2 separate regions of the Homo sapiens genome follow, and region 1 is linked to region 2. The links come from fine-mapping of genetic effects on gene expression. A gene starts in region 2. The other region holds a variant in brackets. All regions are shown on one strand. Distances are from middle to middle. Region 1 overlaps RESP18 (regulated endocrine specific protein 18). Region 2 holds the start of ATG9A (autophagy related 9A).

Evidence for each region.
Region 1: its variant is fine-mapped to the expression of ATG9A in transverse colon (GTEx, PIP 0.97).

Annotation. Positions count from the first base shown.
Region 1 is chr2:219,320,383-219,330,486 of GRCh38, forward strand. It overlaps RESP18 (regulated endocrine specific protein 18), which reads right to left. Exons shown (of 6, transcript NM_001441699.1): 3 at 9,255-9,382; 4 at 8,781-8,870; 5 at 8,542-8,626; 6 at 7,025-7,181. The coding sequence ends at 7,135. Among named protein-coding and RNA genes, the nearest start is that of RESP18, 7.3 kb to the right of the region's middle. The variant G/A (reference allele first, on the strand shown) is at 5,624.
Region 2 is chr2:219,224,306-219,234,093 of GRCh38, forward strand. It overlaps ATG9A (autophagy related 9A), which reads right to left and starts at 5,331. Exons shown (of 16, transcript NM_001077198.3): 1 at 5,230-5,331; 2 at 4,129-4,180; 3 at 3,617-3,748; 4 at 3,465-3,508; 5 at 2,564-2,628; 6 at 1,106-1,267; 7 at 766-907; 8 at 1-549. The coding sequence starts at 3,719. It overlaps ANKZF1 (ankyrin repeat and zinc finger peptidyl tRNA hydrolase 1), which reads left to right and starts at 5,501. Exons shown (of 14, transcript NM_018089.3): 1 at 5,501-5,595; 2 at 5,923-6,100; 3 at 7,623-7,735; 4 at 7,955-8,057; 5 at 8,185-8,378; 6 at 8,774-8,886; 7 at 8,981-9,128; 8 at 9,410-9,638. The coding sequence starts at 5,953. RefSeq lists enhancers at 4,271-4,819, 4,820-5,367, 5,368-5,915, 5,586-5,695 and silencers at 5,046-5,095, 5,306-5,435.

The sequences.
Region 1 (10,104 bases), 96 kb after region 2:
GCAATCTCGGCTCACTGCAACCTCTGCTTCCTGGGTTCAAGCGATTCTCGTGCCTTAGCCTCTTGAGTAGCTGGGACTACAGGTATGAGCCACCACACCCAGCTAATTTTTGTTTTTGTATTTGTTTTTTTTTTGAGACGGAGTTTCGCTTTTGTTGCCCAGGCTGGAGTACGATGGCGTGATCTCGGCTCACCGCAACCTCTGCCTCCTGGGTTCAAGCGATTCTCCTGCCTCAGCTTCCCGAGTAGCTGGGATTACAGGCTTGCGCCACCACGCCTGGATAATTTTGTATTTTTAGTAGAGACAGGGTTTCTCCATGTTGGTCAGGCTGGTCTTGAACTCCTGACCTCAGGTGATCTGCATGCCTTGGCCTCCCAAAGTGCTGGGATTATAGGTGTGAGCCACCATGCCCAGCCTAATTTTTCTATTTTTTAAATAGAGATGGGGGTTTCACCGTGTTGGCCAGGCTGGTCTCGAACTCCTGACCTCAGGTGGTCCACCCGCCTTGGCCTTCCAGAGTGTTGGGATTACAGGCATACGCCACCATGCCTGGACACTGCACTCCAGCGTGGGCAACAGAGCTAGACTCCATCTCAAAAAAAAAAAAAACTTTGTGGTTTCTGGTTTCCTGTCAAAAATTATAGTTTGGTCTTTGTAGGTTTGAACATAGCAAGCACAGATGTTTTATGTTGGAACCAATGTTTTTCATTGAAATCACTGTGAGTCTGTTTTTGTTATCTATTGTGCAGAGCATAGTATTTGGAAAATTATCTGTAGAAATAATTTAAAGTTTTGATGGATTTTCATTTATGTCTGCAGGTGCCTGAAAGCACTAGCAATCTAATATAACCTTAATCCAATTTCACAGCCATACTGCAGACTGAGCAAGGGTTACTACTTATTTATTTATTTATTTATTTATTTATTTATTTATTTATTTATTTTTGAGACAGAGTTTCACTCTTGTTGCCCAGGCTGGAGTGCAATGGCACGATCTCAGCTTACTGCAACCTCCACCTCCTGGGTTCAAGTGATTCTTCTGCCTCAGCCTCCCAGAGTAGCTGGGATTACAGGCATGAACCACCATGCCCAGCTAATTTTACTTTTTTATCTTTATGCTTGGAGTTTGTTTCTTGTTCCCAGGCCAAAACACGGAGAAGTTTACTAGAATTCTTCCTTTCACAAGCCCTGGATTCTAACATCTACTCCTCTAGCTCCACAGGCTGTCTAAATCAGTCTTTTCTTGGCTTTTTCCCCCCACTGCCGAGAGAGGGTCTTGCTCTGTCACCCAGGCTGGAGTGCAGTGGTGCAACCTTGGCTTTCTTGCAGGCTTGACCTACCAGGCTCAATCAGTGTTCCTGCCTCAGCCTCTCAAGTAGCTAAGACTACCAGTGTGTGCTGCCCTGCCCCACTAATTTTATTTTTTGTTAAGACGAGGTCTCACTGCATTGCCCGGGCTGGTCATCTACCTCCTAAGAATGGAAAATTTCTCCATTGCAACCCTGAACATTGGATCTTCTATCTCTGGATTCTGTTCCTTTCTTGGATCTTCTTCTGTGTCAGTTTCTCCTCACTCTTGCTCGCTCCTTGATGGTTTAAAAAATATTTTGGTAATTTTTCACCCACATTTTTTTTTGAGGCAGGATTTCACCCTGTTGCCCAGGCTGGAATGCAGTGCTGTAATTTCAGCTCACTGCAACCTTGAACTCCTGGGCTCAGGTAATTCTTACTTCAACCTCCCAAGTAGCTAGGACTACAGGCACGCACCACCACGCCTAGCTAATTTTTACATATTTTTTTGAAATGTGATTTTGCTATGTTTCCCAGGCTGGTCTCAAACTCCTGAGCTCAAGCAATCTGCCTGCCTCGGGCTCCCAAATTGCTGGGATTACAGGTGTAAGCCACCTTTCCTGGCCTGAGTTATCTTTTAACTCCAGCCATTGCTGCAGCCACCTGCACTAAATCATTTGACACCACCTGCCTCACCTGCACTAAATATCTCTTGTTTTTGATTTGAGTCTGCTCTGCTACAACAGCATTAGGCACTCCTGGGAATCTGTTCAGTCATTCTCATCCATGAAAAACCTGGAAGTATGAGGAAATTAACATCCCATAGGTCAACTCTTGATCCAATGGCGGATGGAAACTAGATAAATACTTCTCTTTCCGAAGGACAATTGTAGGGTATATCTTGTACCTGATGCTTAAAGAGTCCCCAGAAGAACTGATTCCCAGTGGCCTACAACTCATTCTTGCACCCTTAAATTAGCTTTCCAAGCCCTCCTGTTTCGCTCTTTTCATTCTTCCACTCTTGATCTTGTGATATCTTCCCAAACTAAACAACCTCTATACAAGCCCTTATTTTGCAGTTTGACTTTGGGAGGAATCAGTCTAAGACAAGTTGTCTTCAGCAAGGGCCTGAGGAGTATGAGCTTGAGGTAATGACCTAGTGCATTATTACCAGAAGCAGAAATTGAGGAAAAAATAAATATGGGAGATATAACAACATGTGTTGATGAAAATGATCAGACATCCAAAAGGCTTGAGGTAATGACCTAGTGCATCATTACCAGAAGCAGAAATTCAGGAAAAAATAAATATAAAAGATATTACAGCATGTGTTGACAAAAATGATGAGACATCCAAAGAAAAGGTAATGAAGTAGGAAAGAGACCGGAGGACACAACTGTGTGATGTCCTTAAATGAGCTCCCAGCTTTAACTCTTAAGAGTAAATCAATTTTCCTTCTCCAACTAATTCTCCAGATATTCGTATTCTGTGAATGGCACTTTTATTCCATCAGTCACAAAATCTCTAAATTCAGGTAAGCCTCCTTTCTCAACAAAGCCCAGTCATCTGTAGTAGTTTGCTAGGGCTGCTGTAACAAAGTACCATAGACTGGGTGGCTTAAACAACAGAAATTTATGGTCTCACAGCTCTGGAGGCTAGAAATCTGAAACCAAGCTGTTGGCAGGGTTGATACCCTCTGAGAGCTGTGAGGGAGAATCTGTTTCAGAACTCTCTCCTTGCCTTGTAGATGGCTTCCATCTCCCTTTATCTTTTCACATCATCGTTGCTCTAGCTATGGCTGTCTTCAAATCCTGCCCCTGCTTTTTTTGAGATTGGGTCTCCCTCTGCTGCCTAGGATGGTCTCAAACTCCTGTGCTCAAGCGATTATCTAGCCTCAGCCTTTGAGTAGCTGGGACTACAAGCACTGGCCACTGTGTATTTCCTCTTTTTATAAGGATACCGTGATTGGTATTAGAGTCCGTCCTAATGACCTCATCTTAACCAACCACATCTGCAACAACCCTATTTCCAAATAACATCACATTTGGAAGTACTGGGGATTAGGACTTCAACATATGATTTTTTTTTTTTTTTTTTTTTTTTTTGGTGGGGGGACAGAATTCAACCTGTAACAGTTGCAAAGGCTTATTAACTCATCCTTCAAAATATCTCTCATACATGTCCTCTTTCAGTCCATTCAGGTCGTGTATGGGACACCCCCACCATTGCAACAGTCTTTCTAAAATGTTTCCACTTTCTCCTGCTCTCTAATCCATCCTTAAACAGAAATGTAAGGCTATGCTTAAGCACAACTTTCATTGTGTTCTCTTGCTCAAAAACATTTAGTGTCTCCTCATTACCTATCAGATACTACCCAAATCAGATAACCTGGTCCTCTGCAATAGGAACTGAACCTGCCTTCCTTTCTAAAAACTCCCCATCTTTCCTACCCATTCACCATGTCCCAGAATTATCAGATTATTTAATGTCCCCTATAGGTTTTATTTTTCCAGCCTCTGCAACTTTGCTCTGGGCATGGGGGTGATGTTACGAGGGTCAGGGAATGGACCACAGAGGAGAATTTAGATTTTTCAGGTAAGACTGACAAGGTGTGCTGGGGATGGGACACTTATATGCAGAGGGAACTGCTGATACAAGGGCCCAGGAGCATAAAACAGCTGGGTATGTTTGGGGAAATGCAAATAGGGCTGAATTGCTGGTGCACATAGGACAGCAGGATGGGGGAAACACTGCAGTTTTGAAGAGGTTGGTGAGACAAGAACTTGAATGCTCTGTGGGCCAGATAAATTGCTTAGATTCTGCCCTATACCCAGGCAGTTAGTCAATGATTTATGACCAAATCCATGCAGTGGATACTCTGACTTGTTCACAACTGTATCCCCAGGGCCTAGAAGAGTGTCTGGCACATAGTAGGCTTGGTCTGGGTGGACCCAAGAGCAGACTGAGACAAGAACTTGGGCTGGGCATGGTGACTCATGCTGGTAATCCCAGCACTTTGGGAGGCCAAGGCAGGAGGATTGCTTGAGCTCAAGAGTTTGGGACCAGCCTGGGGAACATAGTGAGACCTTGTCTCTACTAAAAAACAAAAAAAAATTAGCCAGGTGTGGTGGTGATCATCTGTAGTACCAGCTACTCAGGTTCAAGTGAGGTGGAGGAATTGGATTCTTCCAATTTTTCACAGCAGCCTCAGTCTCTCGGGCTCAAGTGAGGTGGAAGAATCCCAAGAGACTGAGGCTGCTGTGAGCTATGGTTGCACTACTGTACTCCAGCCTGGGTGACAGAGCGAGATCTGGGTCTCAAAAATGAATGAATGAATAATTTGGGTGCAGGTGGTTCCTGTGGGAGATGATTCCAGAAATCACAGATGAAGGACAGGGAAAGTAAGCCAAAGAAGGAAGAAAAGCCAATAATAAGTGTGTTGCTGAACAGGTTACCACTGTGGGCGACTAGGCTGAATCTCACTAGGCACCCTCTGAAGAATCATACTGAACATTTCTCACTAAGGGCTGGTGGAATCTGGGATATTTTTGCACTAAATTTGGCCCTTAACTGATTGAGAGTTGCCTCTAGGGGCATTACCTCCCAGGTGCTTCAGGGCTGCCTGGGGCACAGCTGGGCAGTCCCTTGGCATTCCAGAAAGCCTGCAGGATGAGAAGCAGAATCCCGGGGCATGAGGTGGGAAGGTTGACAGGTTCAAGAACTGTCCACCTGCAGCTGCAGGCAAATGGAGATGCAGGCCAGGAGATACGGGATGGGGCATCCACTGCATTCACTCCTTATAGATAACTGAATGACGCTATGTTATATGTGGCTTGCTTTCTTGACTTTTTTTTTTTAAACAGCCTCACTCTGTCACCCAGACTGGAGTGTAGTGGCACAATGATGGCTCACTGCAGCCTCAACCTCCTGGGCTCAAGTGATTCTCCCACCTCAGCCTCCCAGGTAGCTGGAACTACAGGTGCATGCCACCATGCCCAGCTAATTTTTGTATTTTTGTGGAGATGGGTTTTTGCCGTGTTGCCCAGGCTGGTCTCAAACTAGGTGGGCTCAAGTGATCTGCCTGCCTCAGCCTCCCAAAGTGCTGGGATTATGGGAATAAGCCACCGCACCCCACCCTGACTACTCTTAAAGGTCTTTGAGGGCAGGAACCAAATATGTGACTCAGCATAAAGGCCAGGCACAGTGAAGCACATGATTACATACATGTTTGAAAATGAGTGAGAAAGGAAGGCTTAAGAAGAAAAGAAGGATGAGTGGCAGGGGTTAATTGATTTGATGAGAACTAGGTACGAATGAGTATGACTGATCTAAC[G/A]TTGGCTTTAGCTACGTTCTTGAACATAACAAGAAGGGAAAGGGCAACCACAGTAGCATGACTGAGAATCTGGATCATTAAGAACTAGTCGTGTAGTTTCTCTGGGTTGTTTAAATGGGGAAGATGTGGTGTGGCCAAGTTCCAATTCCTTAGAGAAACCCAGTTTGTTGTTGTTTTTGGTTTATTTTTTTGAGATGGAGTCTCACTGTTGACCAGGCTGCAGTGCAATAGTGTGATCTTGGCTCACTGCAACTCTGCCTCCCAGGTTCAAGCGATTCTCCTACCTCAGCCTCCTGAGTAGCGCGCCACCATGCCCGGCTAATTTTTGTTTGTTTGTTTGTTTATGATGGAATCTTGCTCTGTTGCCCAGGCTGGAGTGCAAGGGCGTGATCTCAGCTCACTGCAACCTCCACCTCCTGGGTGCAAGTGATTCTCCTGCCTCAGCCTCCTGAGTAGCTGGGATAGCAGGTGTGCACCACTACGCCCAGCTAATTTTTGTATTTTTAGTAGAGATGGGATTTCACCATGTTGGCCAGGCTGGTCTCGAACTCCTGAACTCAGGTGATCCCCTTGCCCTGCCTCCCAAAGTGTGGGATTATAGGCATGAGCCACCGTGCCCAGCCTAATTTTTGTATTTTTAGTAGAGATAGGGTCTTACCATGTTGGCCAGGCTGGTCTTGAACTCCTGATCTCAAATGATCCACCCGCCTTGGCCTCCCAAAGTGCTGGGATTACAGGTGTAAGCCACTGTGCACAGCCAAGAAACCCAGTCTTGATACCTGCCCATTTGCTTACACCTGTGAGCCTCCAACGTGTGTGAAAGTGCTTCAAAATGTATAAAGCTCTGCAAATAGGACATTCTAGTGTTTGGTTGTTGGCTGAACATAGGTGGTGAGATTACCAACTCCCTTTTAAGATTTTAAGCTACCAGGAGCAAACTAGCAAGAATGATCAGAATGTCCAGTGTGCGTACACTCTGACCTCAGCACTGATCTGTTGGTCCTTGTAGACAGGATGGGTGGGAAAGCCTGGTAGGGGCTATAATGCTGGAGGTGGGGACCCTCAAAAAACAGCAGGGTCCAGGCCTGTCTGGCATGAGGGGTAAAAGAAATGAATATGGAGTCCACCTCCCCGTAACGTGAAAGGATGGGCAACTAGACCACACAGTGTGGCTGGGATGTGGCTGGGTTAGGGGGGCTGCCATTCCAGCTGTGGTCTCACTCTCACTTTCCCCACTCCGGGAATTATCAGTGGAAGGAAAACAAGACAGAAGCCAGTCTTCCATCAGCCAAGAGTTGTGCTCCCCTCATCCCCACCCCATGTTTTGGTCCCACCTCCCTCTGTTTGGAGGCTCTGGCCAAGTTCAACCCCCACCCATCTTGCCTCAAGACAAACTCAGTGTTTGCATGAGAGTCTACTTTAATGATTCAAATCTGGGTCATCCAAGAACTGCTCCTCTGAAGGGCAATGGGAAGGGTGCTGGGGCAGGGAGGCTTCACATGAGGTCTCAATCAGCCACAGGGTTGCGGCCCACAGTAGGAAGTGGCCCAGAGAAGCCCTAAAACAAGAAGAAACAAGGGAGCTAGAGTCAGGATGTGAGACAGTGGCTCCTCCCTCATCTGCCCTCCTTCCACAAATACTGTAGTAACAGCCTGATTTGAGTAACCCTTCAGCATGGTGACAGCTCACCAACTGAGAGCCTGTCCCCTTGGGTCTCACATGTAGCCCTGTCTCTCCATGGTTTGCCCTTAAGCTTAGGTCTGGAGAAGAATGGCAGCTTCTTGTTTGCATTATTCCTGGGAGCACCAGGGCAACCAGTCCCCCACAGGTAGGTCTCTGTCACTTCTGTCACTGAGCTCTGATTATGTTGCCCCAGCAACCAATCCAGGCTTAGGAAGCCCAGCTGCCACATTATGGAAGTAGGAATCTGTTTCCTTGGAGAGCATGAGGAGCTGGAACCCCCTGTGGTGCAGGTTGCCTTTAGATGGAGGGTGCAGCCAGCCGGGGGTGCCCTGCTTCACTGCCACCACCCAAATTCAAGCCACCTCGGTCTCCCTGGACCAGGATGAGCCCCTCCTTACAGACCTCTCAGTTTTCACTTTTGCTCTCCTTACAGTTCATTCCCCAACATCACCAGGGTGGCCTTTTAAAATCATATCACGTTGTGACATTCCTTTCCTTAAAATTTCCCAGTTAAATTCCCACTGCACTTAGAATGAAATTCAAACCTTTTGCTATGATCTGTGAGCCCCTGTGTGGTCAGTCCTGGGCCTAATTCTCCACCCTCATCTTTGACCACTGACTTTTCTGTCTGTTCCTTAACATGACATGGTATGGGTGTCTCAGGACATTCGTAGTGGCAATGCTGTCTGCCTCAGATGCCCTTCCTTTACATCTTCCTCTGGTTGCCACCTTATAATTTAGGTCTTAGTCCAAAAAAAAAAAAACCTCTTTTTTCAGTGTGGAGGAGTCTGATGTTTGGAATGGCCAAATCCCACTGCAGTTCTTGAGTGGAAGGGCAGGGACTATGCAGGGGGAAAGAGCTGGAAATCAGGAGACCTGGGTCCAGTCTTGGCTCTGCCACAAACCCATGGTGTTGCCTTGAGTATGTCCCATGGCCTGGGCCCCAATTTCTCATCTATAAAGATGGATGGGAGTACTAGATGGGCGGTTTCCATTCTGGATTCTGAAGAGTTCAAAGATCCCAAGGAGATGTCTCAGAGCCTTGCCTGGGTGACTTGCCCAGGCCATAGAGTAGAGCAAGGGGGAGGCTGAATGTGAGGGTCTCTGAGCTGCACCTCCCATTCATCAAGGGAGTGTTGCTATCATGTGCTATATACAAGGGCATATATGGCAAAAAGGACGTTTAATTTTGAAAACTCTGCTGTTTCAATGCCTATTTTAAACTCAATACTTACGCATGATCTTATAGATAATTTCTTCCTTAGAGGGTCCCGGCGCCTGCATCATGTCCAGCCCCCCATATGAACACCTATAGGTAATCTGAGAGATACAGGAAATTAGAAGTACCTTTGATTAGGAATGGAAAAATCTTTTCTGCAGCGATCTGCCCTCACCTCAATGCCCATTCCCTTCTTCCTATCTGCCTCCCTCATTTAAACAGGTCCAACCTCCCTAGAAAAAGTGAGCCCCTCACCTTGACAGGGTTGGCCACCTCTTGTTTCAGGGCCTTAGAAACCACTTCGGAGGTAAAGCACTGATCCCTGTTCACCTTGGCCAGGGGGCTCTGTGAGGAGGGAAACCAGGAGTCAAGGAGGAGGCAGAAAAGGGTGAGAGGGCCCCACAGGAAAAGCAATTGGATACAAAGTCAGGGATTCACAATTCTTGAGAAGATACGTGAGTCTCACTGGGGAATAGGAGTTGAAGTTTCTCCTCTTGCTAGAAGAGACAGGGAATGACAAATTGGACCTAGGCTTGCCACACCCACCTCCCCTCCCTTTGCAGATATCACTAATGGATCATGAAATTCTTCTCTGCTGATTCCAAACAGGACCTCTGAATTCTCACAGTGCTCCTGGCAACTTCTACCTGCAGTTTTAGCACACATTCCTTCCCTGTTCCGTCTGTCTGCCAGAATGCTTGGAATGACCACAGGCCTCATGCACCTCACCTCAGTGGTTTTAGTGGGGAAAAGTGCCTTCCCATCCTTCAGGCATGGTTCTTGGGGATGCAGTCTGCTGGCATGCTCCATCTTTTGGATCATTGCATCCTGGGTGATGTCATCCTTCCAGAACAGACCTGCAGGATGAAAGGATGGGGGGTGAGTTGACACCTGAGACACTCGGATCCACTCCAGGGATCAGAGTAACCTTTCTCTCAAGTATATATTAGATTACATTTTACAGAGAATTAAACAAGATGATGTATTAAAGTTGCTTAGCATAGTGCCTAGCATATAATATTCAAATTAGGATTATGATTACAGTCTCTTTGCTGGTTCATTTGATGCTATTGTGAGGATTAAATGAGGTTAGGAATATAAAGAGTGCTTAGAAAATGCTAAGGCAGTGATTATCAAACTTTAGCATGTGCATCAGAATCTCCTGCAAGGTCTGTTAAAATACAGACTGCTGTTTCCCACCCCTAGGGCTTCTGATGCAGTAGGTCTGTGGTGAAGTTCAAAAATTCCCATTTCTAACAAGTTCCCTGGCGAGGTTGATGCTGCCAGTCCAGGGGTGCACTTTGAGAACTACTGCTCTAAGGCACTATGCACATATTAGTGTTAGCAGCAGTAATATGAACTCAAGGAAGATTTCCTAGCTGACTGTCTCCTCCCCAACATTCATGAAACTCTGCTGTGAGACAGGGTCAGCCACATGTTGCCAATGGACTCTCCACTCCCTTTCATTCCTCCCATCTGTTTGTCATACAATTTCCTACTCAGAGGCTGAAGTGTGTGTTTTCCTGTCTGAGAACTTGAAGAGTCCTGGCTTTGGAAAAGCTCATATAGTGCTGGGGTT
Region 2 (9,788 bases):
GTTGAGGCGGGACTGCAGCTCGTGCTCCAGCTCGTTGAAGTGGCGGAGGTAGCAGCGGCCATAGAGTGACCAGCAGCGTGCTCCCAGGGCCCCCGGCTCCCGCTTCAGCACCTCAGCATAGCTGAAGAAGGCATAGAGGATTTGCCATATGAGGATGAGGGGGCACAGCAGGAAGTTAGCGATGCCAATCCACAGGATGCGGTTGCTGAGGCGCTGGGCCAGCTCTAGCCGTTGCCCCCCACGTTTGTACTCGGCCTTGAGGCTCCATTCATTGAGAAACAGAGAGCCAGGTCCCCAGAAGAGGATCAGCTCAAAGTTGTACTTGAGACCACGGGTGAAGAAGACAGCTTCCCCGAGGCCAGGCAGGCGGAAGCGCAGAGGCAGGAGGGATTTGTTAACCAGTGCCACCATGTAGTTCTGGAAACGGAGGATGCGGTGGTAGATGTCCAGTTCTGTCAGCTCACGTTTGTGGATGCAGATCTGGTGCTCCTTCTGCGTCTGCACGATCCGGGCCTGCACTTCTTGCCACGTGCAATACGGAAGGGCAGACTGCGGGGTGGGGTGGGGAAGAGACAAGGTACGGAAGGTGGGGTTGTTGCCTCGACCCCTTTGCCCTATATTAGAAGTGAGATTCAGGGGTTGTGAGCTTAAGAGACAGTTCCTGATTTGTCAATGACAGATAAGGATAACTGATGCCCAGGAATACACCCACACCTCCCAATACGTCTTAGACTATGGGCTAACTGCCCAACTTCCCAGTCTTACCATAGGGATGCGCAGAGCGTGCAGGTAGAAGGAGTGGATCTCCCAGTAGCAGCAAATGTTATAGATGAACTTGATAAGCCGGTGGATCCAGAAGACACCAGCAATGACCAGGATGGTGATAAGGGAGCCATTTTCCTGAATCCTGGTGGGGAAAAAGAAGGGGAGGAGAGGTGGCCCTCGAGGAAGGAGTCTTGGCAGAGACGCTGCTATCCTGAAGTATTTTTGCTAGACCAAGCCTGAGTCAGTTCTGGAGTATGAGTTGCTGCCTCAGACTCCACTCTATTACCCACCTGCTAGCAGAACTCAAGGCTATGGTGTCCTCTTGACTTGCAGCCCTTACCTGGCACTACAGACTTGAGCAGGCAAAAAGGCGTCTGGCAGAGTGACCTTGACGGGTTCAGTAGGGTGAAGACTGTGGTTCACCATCTTGTTGGCAAATAGGATGTCATAGTCCACGCAGCTGACCAGGAAGGTAGTGAAGGCAACCACAAAGAGGAACTGCCTGGGGAGTTGGGAAGAAGGGGTGCAGTCTGAGAGCCAGAGAGGCTCCAGTGAAACCCAGTGGGAAGAGGAGAGTCTGGAGGTGGCAGAACAAGACTGGGAACTGGAAGGGCCTGGAGAACTCCCAGTGGGCCCTCTCTGCTCCTCAGCCCCACAGGACTGTCTCAGGCCCACTCTTTGCTCTTAGCCTCAGCTGCCACAGCTGCAGCCTACTTTCCTCACCTCATGGTAACCTCAGCCACCACTACTGGACTCTCGAAGGTTTCATCCTGTGGGTCTCTGATCTCCAGTCTCTGATTTCCTTTTGAGGTTGTAGTTAAAAGCCCTTGGGGGAGTTTTCTGATTGAGGGAGGGCTTCCTAACCCCTTCCCCTTCGGCAATGCTATATGGCTTCTCTCTCCCAGGAGGCTCTCTGCCTAGGAGCAGGCCATGGAACAGGCAAGGCAGAACAGAGGCTTTTCTCTGTGGCTGGCATCTCTGAGACCTCCTGACTGAACAATGTACGTTCCATTGGAGCGTTGAGATGATCAAGGTCAAGGCCTGCATTCTTTTTTTTTTTGAGAGAGTCTCACTCTGTCAGCCAGGCTGGAGTGCAGCGGCACAATCTCGGCTCACTGCAACCTCCACCTCCCAGGTTGAAGCGATTCTTGTGCCTCAGCCTCCCAAGTAGCTGGGATTACAGGCGTGTGCCACCACACCCAGCTAATTTTTGTATTTTTAGAGCCTCCTAAAGTGCTGGGATTACAGGTGTGAGCTGCCGTGCCCAACCAAGGCTTGGGTTCTTTTCATGGAAGAGATAAGGCTTGGAAAGCTTTTCTTGTAAGAAAGCTTGGCCGGGCGTGGTGGCTCATGCCTATAATCCCGGCACTTCGGGAGGTTGAGGCGGGCAGATAACCCGAGGTCAGGAGTTCGAGACCAGCCTGGCCAACTTGGTGAAATCCCATCTCTACTAAAAATACAAAAAAAATTAGCCGGGCATGGTGGCACATGCCTGTAGTCCCAGCTACTAAGGAGGCTGAGGCAGGAGAATCACTTGAACCTGGGAGGCAGAGGTTGCACCGAGCCAAGACCACTGCACTCCTGCCTGGGCGACAGAGTGAGACTCACTCCATCTCAAAAAAAAAGAAAGGTGAAGCTGTAAGTTTTGGTGCCACACCCAGTCCCTGAACTACAAAGGTTTACGGAGTTTTAGCCTAGGACTGAGTTGTACTGGCAGGTTGGGCCAAGTGTGAGTGCAAGGAGAGGAAAGACTAAGATGTATTCTTTCACCACATCATCTGTCCCTTCTTATACTTACATGAGCTCAAAGATCTCCCCGATGAGCATACATGTGAAGCCATTCTTCTGGTGCAGATTATAAACGTGTAATTGTTAAGAAAAAGTAGTCAGTAAAGAAAGCAGGTAAGAGCACAGACTTTGGTGTCAACACACTCAAGCTTAAGTCCTGGCTCTGTGACTTTCTAGCTGTGTGACTTTACCAAGTTACTTAACCTGTCTAAACTTTTGTCTGTCCATGGTGGTACATTAGGAATAAATAACACTTGTCTCATAGGAGTATTAGGTCTAAGATAATGCATGTAAAGCATTTAACACAGAGCTGACACAGAATGAGTCAAAAGACGTTACTTATTACGATTATTTACATCCCATCAAAAAGGAGGCTCGGCTGGGTGTGGTGGCTCACGCCTGTAATCCTAACACTTTGGGAGGGCAAGGCAGGTGGATCACTTGAGGTCAGGAGTTCGAGACCAGCCTTGCCACATGGTGAAACCCTGTCTCTATGAAAAATACAAAAAATAGCTGGGCATCGTGGCAGGTGCCTGTAATCCCAGCTACGTGGGAGACTGAGGCAGGAGAATCTCTTGAACCCAGGAGGTGGAGGTTGCAGTGTGTTGAGATCGCCCCTGGACTCTAGCAGCAACAGAGACAGACTCCATCTCAAACAAAAAAAAAAGGAGGCTCACCCTTAGAAAGGCTTCTACAAATTAACACCACAAAGTGGACACAGGCACACAGATCTTGGTAAATGTGGGCTATCATTACTTAACGATGATTTCACCAGCCTCTTTCAGCCTCAGGATGAGCTCCATTCCCGTTTCCAGGTATTAGAGTCAAACCTACCCCCACCTCCCACCAGAGCCCCGGCTTAGAGAGACATTAAAGGTCCCAGAGCTCCAACTCAGAAACACAAAGGATATTCGAGAGAAGAAGAGGTCAAGGTTTTCAATATGGTGCCAAGGTGCTGTGGGATAGGAACAGAGATGTCAGAGCCCTGGGAGAACACAAGCCCCTTGCTCTCTCCATGTTCTTCCATCAACTCTCCCTATGGCTGTCATATCCAAGAACTCACACTTGCTCCCCTCGGCGACGTGCACCAACAGGTCCTCCTCCCCTGGGGGTGAATCACTATAGGAGGCCTCTAGGCGCTGGTATTCAGTGTCAAACTGCGCCATCACCACCGCCCCCTGTCCACCTTGACCACCTGCCAATAAGGAGGAAGAAGAGACCCTGATTCAGTTCCAGCTGCTGCCCATGGGCTGCCCTGCCTACTGCCAAAAGGAGAAAGTACCCTTGGGCTTTGTCCACTACCAGCCTCCTTGGCTCAGAGGCAGAGGAGTAGTGACACAAGAAAGGCAGTAAGCTCAGGGCTGGGGGAGCCTTAACTCTGGCCAGTCTGGGTGTCTACTGCTGCTTTCCTGGCCCAAAGCCAGAATCTGTCCCTTTGTTGGGGGCTGTTTCATCTTCTATTTAACGGACAGAAGAGTCCCTCCCCCGCCCATCCTGGGAACCCTGGTCTCCCAAGAGACTAACAGTTTGGAAGCACTTCACAAACAAATGTTTGAGAAAAGCACATGGCCCTACCAGCTCCATGGACAGTATGTGCTCCTCTCCAGCCCTCGATGCTCTGCAGCTGCTGGAGGAGAAGATGTCAGGCCCCAGAGAGTGGGCAGTGGGGATAAAAAGGAACCCAACCCTCCCAGCCATCCACACCCCACCAAGAGGAGGCCAAGCATGGGGCAGGAAGGCTGCAGTGGGGAAGAAGCACCCTTCCAGCCCAGGACTACGAGCACTTCCTCTGGCTGTGCTAAACCGGGCCACTCTTCCAACTCCAGGGTCTCAAGAAGTAACTTAGGGACCCCATGGAGAATGAGTGGGTACAGACCTGAGGCCAGGGGCGCCTCTGGACTATTTCTCCATTGCCCTACCTTAGCCTCAGAAATGACATACTTCTCAGGGTCCACAAAACCTCAAGAGTCTTTCCTGAAGAGGACCTTTCTGGTCAACCCCTTCTCTTACTTCCCTAGCACCAAAGATCCAGCCGGTGAGCAAACCTTCTGGATGGGAAACCTTGACTGGGTCAGTGTAGACCCCCGATCCTAGGTGAATTTGTGGGTTCCCTAGGTCCTGTAAGCCAGGCATGGTCGAGGTGGTACTCACCTGTCCGTGCAGCCCCTGGGGGCCGTGGATCTTGGCCCAGCCTGGCCCCGGTGGGATTCCCTGGGCTAGTGAGAGCCCTGCCCCTCAGGGAAGTCACCACTCACAGGGTCAGTGTGGACCAGGGCCCGTGGAGCCCCGGCCGGCTGGGCCTGGGCTCAGGGGTTCCTGCGGATGTTGCAGGGATCGAGTCAGCCTTACAGCTGATAGCCCGGGTGGGTTGGCTTGCCTCCCCACACCCAGCCGCGGCGACCGTGGACCGGAGTCCACCTCGCCCCAGGGTCGCCCGGCCCCAGGCCAAGGGCTGGCAGCTCCCAACAGCGGACAACCTCGCGCGCGGCCCCGGCGCCCGCGCGCGCCCCCGTCTGCGCGCGCCAGCAATCAAAACATTCCGGCTGCGCGCCCCCGCCCCGCCGGCGGCGCCCCTTCCTCCGTTACCCGCCGCGAGCTCACTTAGGGCTCCGCAGGCACCCCTGGGCAAGGCCAGACACGGGGCCTGGGATTCCAATAACCGGTCTCACGTCTTACCTCAGGAACAGCGACCCGGGTGATTCCAGAGGCTCCGCCGGCTCCGCTCGGCTCGGCTCGGCTCGGCGCGACCCGCGGCGCTAGGCCGGGTGTCTGCCACTCACTGTCACCCGCAGCCAGGCTGGCCAATAAGCACGGGGGGCGGAGACACAACGGCCAATTCTCGGCTTCAGGGACGGGACTAAAGTCTCGAGGCGGGTCTTGGACAGTCAGCGGCCCAATAGTGTGCTCTACGTGGGGCGGGGCTCAGGTGCGGACGCCGCCGGTTGTCCTCTTCGCTGCTCCGTAGTGACGGGGATTGTTGTGTTGCAGAAATCCGGCAATCGACCTGAGGACTTGCGAGCCGCTCAGCTCCCGGGACGTTTGGTGCGTCTTCTAAGGGCGTGGGCGAGTTTACGCGGGCCAGTTGTTGCTGGTCGCATGGGTAACGAAGAAAGTTCGGCTAGGCAAGCTCAGTGATTTTTAACTCTGTTGGACTCGATTTGGGAGCCGAATGCCTATTTCATTCTTTTGTGGGCTGAGACTGGGGGTTTGAGAAAGTGGACGGGGGCCAAGGTATTCATCTCACAGTTGGTAGCAGGATGAGAGACGAGAAGTCTTGCGGTGCAGGAGAAACCAAGTCAGGCAGGCAGGAGACGCAGCAGTAGGATCTCGTTTGCAGGAGCCCTGTTTCTTACACGCTTTCTACTCCAGGAGCTGCTGCTAAATAATTTCTGCTCAGCCATGTCGCCGGCTCCAGATGCAGCCCCGGCTCCTGCGTCGATCTCCCTGTTTGACCTCAGCGCGGATGCTCCGGTCTTTCAGGGCCTGAGCCTGGTGAGCCACGCGCCTGGGGAGGCTCTGGCCCGGGCTCCGCGTACTTCCTGTTCAGGTATCCTGGAAGGTTTCGTGTGAAACGTGACAGGGCTCCTTACAGCGTATTGCCCGTTCAGGGAACACATTCTTATTGGTATTCCCGAGCTTAGGAGGCCAATTGATTTATCTTTCTGCTTGATTAAATTCACTTAATCTCTGGGTAATGTCCAGCACAGCCCTTGTTTTCAAACAAGTCTTTTTGCCATTGCATGTATCTCCTCACGTTAACACCATTCCCTTCAAAAACACTTTAAACTTTGTAGAGATAAAATTCTCAGATGTATTCCACATTTAACCAGGCCCCACTCAAATTATTCCTTTTTGCTGAATATGAAACAATTTATTATTTGTTTCGTATAGCTTTATTTTTTGAGAGTCTCGCTCTGTCGCCCAGGCTAAAGTGCAGTGGCACGATCTCCACCCACTGCAATCTCCGTCTCCCGGGTTCAAGTGATTCTCCTGCCTCAGCCTCCCGAGTAGCTGGGACTACAGGCCCGCACCACCATGCCCGGCTAATTATTGTATTTTTAGTAGAGACGGGGTTTCACCATGTTGGCCAGGCTGGTCTCAAACTCCTGGCCTCAAGTGATCCGCCTGGGTCAGCCTCCCAAAGTGCTGAGATTACAGGCATGAGCCACCGTGTCGGTCCTGTTTTGTGTAACTTTAGTTTGGCTACATCTTTTCTTGCACCTCTCCTTAGACAAACTGTACACTAATTGGAAATGTAAACTTTAAAAAGCATTTGGGAAGTAGTTTTTGTGCAGTGAAAAATAATTTTAAACTGAACAGAAATTATTTTCTTTAGGATTCACCTAAACAATCTGTTTGGCTAATTTAAATTAGACAAGACTCAAACTCAGCCAGTGGGGAGGACTTGCAGACGCTGGATCTCGGGAGAGGGCTACGTTGGAGAAGTTTAACCGACCCCAAGGCTTTTACCCTCATCGGATTCTTTTCCAGAATGCCCAGGGCCAGTTTTTATTTACATTCGTTTTATTTATTTTATTTTTCTTCATCTTTTTTGAGACAGAGTCTCGTTCTGTTGCCCAGGCTGGAGTGCAGTGGTGTGATCTCGGCTCACTGCAAGCTCCGCCTCCCCGGTTCATGCCGTTCTCCTGCCTCAGCCTCCCAAGTAGCTGGGACTACAGGCATCCGCCACCACACCCGGTTAATTTTTTGTATTTTTAGTAGAGACGGGGTTTCACCGTGTTAGCCAGGATGGTCTTGATCTCCTGACTTCATGATCCGTCTGCCTTGGCCTCCCAAAGTGCTGGGATTACAAGCGTGAGCCGCTGCACCTGGCCAATTTTATTTTATTTACATTCATTTTACGTACATGTTTTCAGAAGCATGTTTATTGCATTAAGTGATTGCTGTACTGTTTATTTCATGACTATTAGAGTGTAAATTCCTTGAAGGCAGTATCATGCCATCTCTTTTGTATCCTCCTCTGCTTTGTATATCACACTCTGAATATAATTCTTGTCACTGTGGATTTGGGCTCCCTTTCTATGTCCAATTCCTCTTCCCTTATTTAGGCTCAGGGGAGAGAGAAAGCCCAGAAAGAAAGCTACTCCAGGGTCCTATGGATATTTCAGAGAAGTTATTTTGTTCAACTTGTGACCAGACCTTCCAGAACCACCAAGAACAGGTAATAGGTCAGGTGCAGAGCTAGATGTTAGAAGCAAAAGTGTAATGGTGGGTGGGGAGAGGTAGACATTTGATTTGTCTTAATAAAGGTCCATGCTTTGACTGAGGCAGTTGGTGTTACCTGGTTGTACTTCCTAGAATACTATAACTGGTCTTGGCCAGTACAAGGCCAGGCTGGGGCATATTTCCACCTTTATCTCACTCTTTGTCTTTGTACTAGAGGGAACATTATAAGCTTGACTGGCATCGGTTTAACCTAAAGCAACGTCTCAAGGACAAGCCTCTCCTGTCTGCCCTGGACTTTGAAAAGCAGAGCTCCACAGGTGATGAGTGGTAGGGGGACCTATGTAGGAGTAGGACATGGAGGTATAAGAAAGCACTAGTTTAGAGTTTGAGGAAAGAACAAAAATGGGGTACCAAACTTGTGTATCTCATATTGTCTGTCTTCAGGAGATCTTTCCAGCATCTCGGGATCAGAAGACTCAGACTCAGCCAGTGAGGAGGACTTGCAGACACTGGATCGGGAGAGGGCTACATTTGAGAAGTTGAGCCGACCCCCAGGCTTTTACCCTCATCGAGTTCTTTTCCAGAATGCCCAGGGCCAGTTTCTTTATGCCTACCGCTGTGTCCTAGGCCCTCATCAGGCAAGTGACAGTACAGGTTGCATGGCTAACCCCAGCCTTTTGTACACCCAGCCTAGATTTCCCTTAGCCTAGTGCATTTCTCCCTGCTTCTCTTCCTTCCTGTTGGTTGTGGGTATCACGCTTGACAACATAGTCTTGAATTGAAACTGGCCTGAATTGTGGAAGGGTTAAGTGTAATGGAATTAAGTTTGGAAACAAACCAATTTAGGTTTGAATTGTGATTCTACCACTTCATCTTGACTGCCTCGCCAAGCCTCAAATTTCCTTGTTTGTCAAATGGAAACAAGCCTCAGGGTGGTAATATTAAATGAGATAATGTTTGTGAAAATTGGCCCTTAGTTTCTTGCTCTCAGTGAATGCAACAGATATGTTTCTGATGCTTCTCTGTCATCAAGGATCCCCCAGAAGAGGCAGAACTGCTGCTACAGAACCTGCAAAGTAGAGGTCCCAGAGACTGCGTGGTGCTCATGGCTGCAGCTGGGCACTTTGCTGGTGCTATATTTCAAGGGTGAGAGGGTGCTGCATGGGGGTAAGGATGGAGTGGATCCTGTTAGCCAGGGAGCACCAGCTGGTCTCCAGTACTGAGTCTGTGCTGTCTACAGAAGAGAAGTGGTGACACACAAAACTTTTCACCGCTATACGGTTCGGGCCAAGCGGGGCACAGCCCAGGGGCTTCGGGATGCCCGAGGTGGGCCATCACACTCTGCTGGAGCCAACCTGAGGCGCTACAATGAAGCCACACTATATAAGGTGAGTTAAGCCTTTTAGATCTGGTGGTACTGATCCATACTTTTTTTGCATCTCTGTTCAACTCACTGTTAAGTAGGGAGGTTTTTGACTCATATCCTTCCAATTTTCATTATAGGTAGACAAAGGTAGATGAGGGATTCCCCAGGAGCCTTAGTCCTCTATTCTTTCTCCGTGTTATCCTCTACTTTCCACCCCTTGCACTTCTGTGGGCCATTTTTTTTAGTTGGAGATTTATAAATAGCAAGTGAAGGTATGCAGGACTGAGTTACTCTCTTCTCTAGGATGTTCGTGACCTGCTGGCAGGGCCAAGCTGGGCTAAGGCGCTGGAGGAGGCTGGTACAATACTGTTGCGTGCTCCCCGCTCTGGCCGGTCTTTGTTCTTTGGAGGCAAGGGAGCACCCCTGCAAAGGGGGGATCCCCGACTTTGGGATATCCCCCTCGCCACCCGCAGACCCACCTTCCAAGAGCTACAGCGTGTGCTCCATAAGCTGACCACTTTGCATGTCTATGGTGAGCCTTTGCTCCAGATCCCAATTCCCTAGACCTTCCTGTTCTCTCCAACCTAAGCCTCCATTCTCATTGGTATATCCAGAGGATTTTCTAAGCCTTGGACTGCAGCCCAGCTACATCTGCATTGAGAGAAACCTGCGCTAGCTTCTC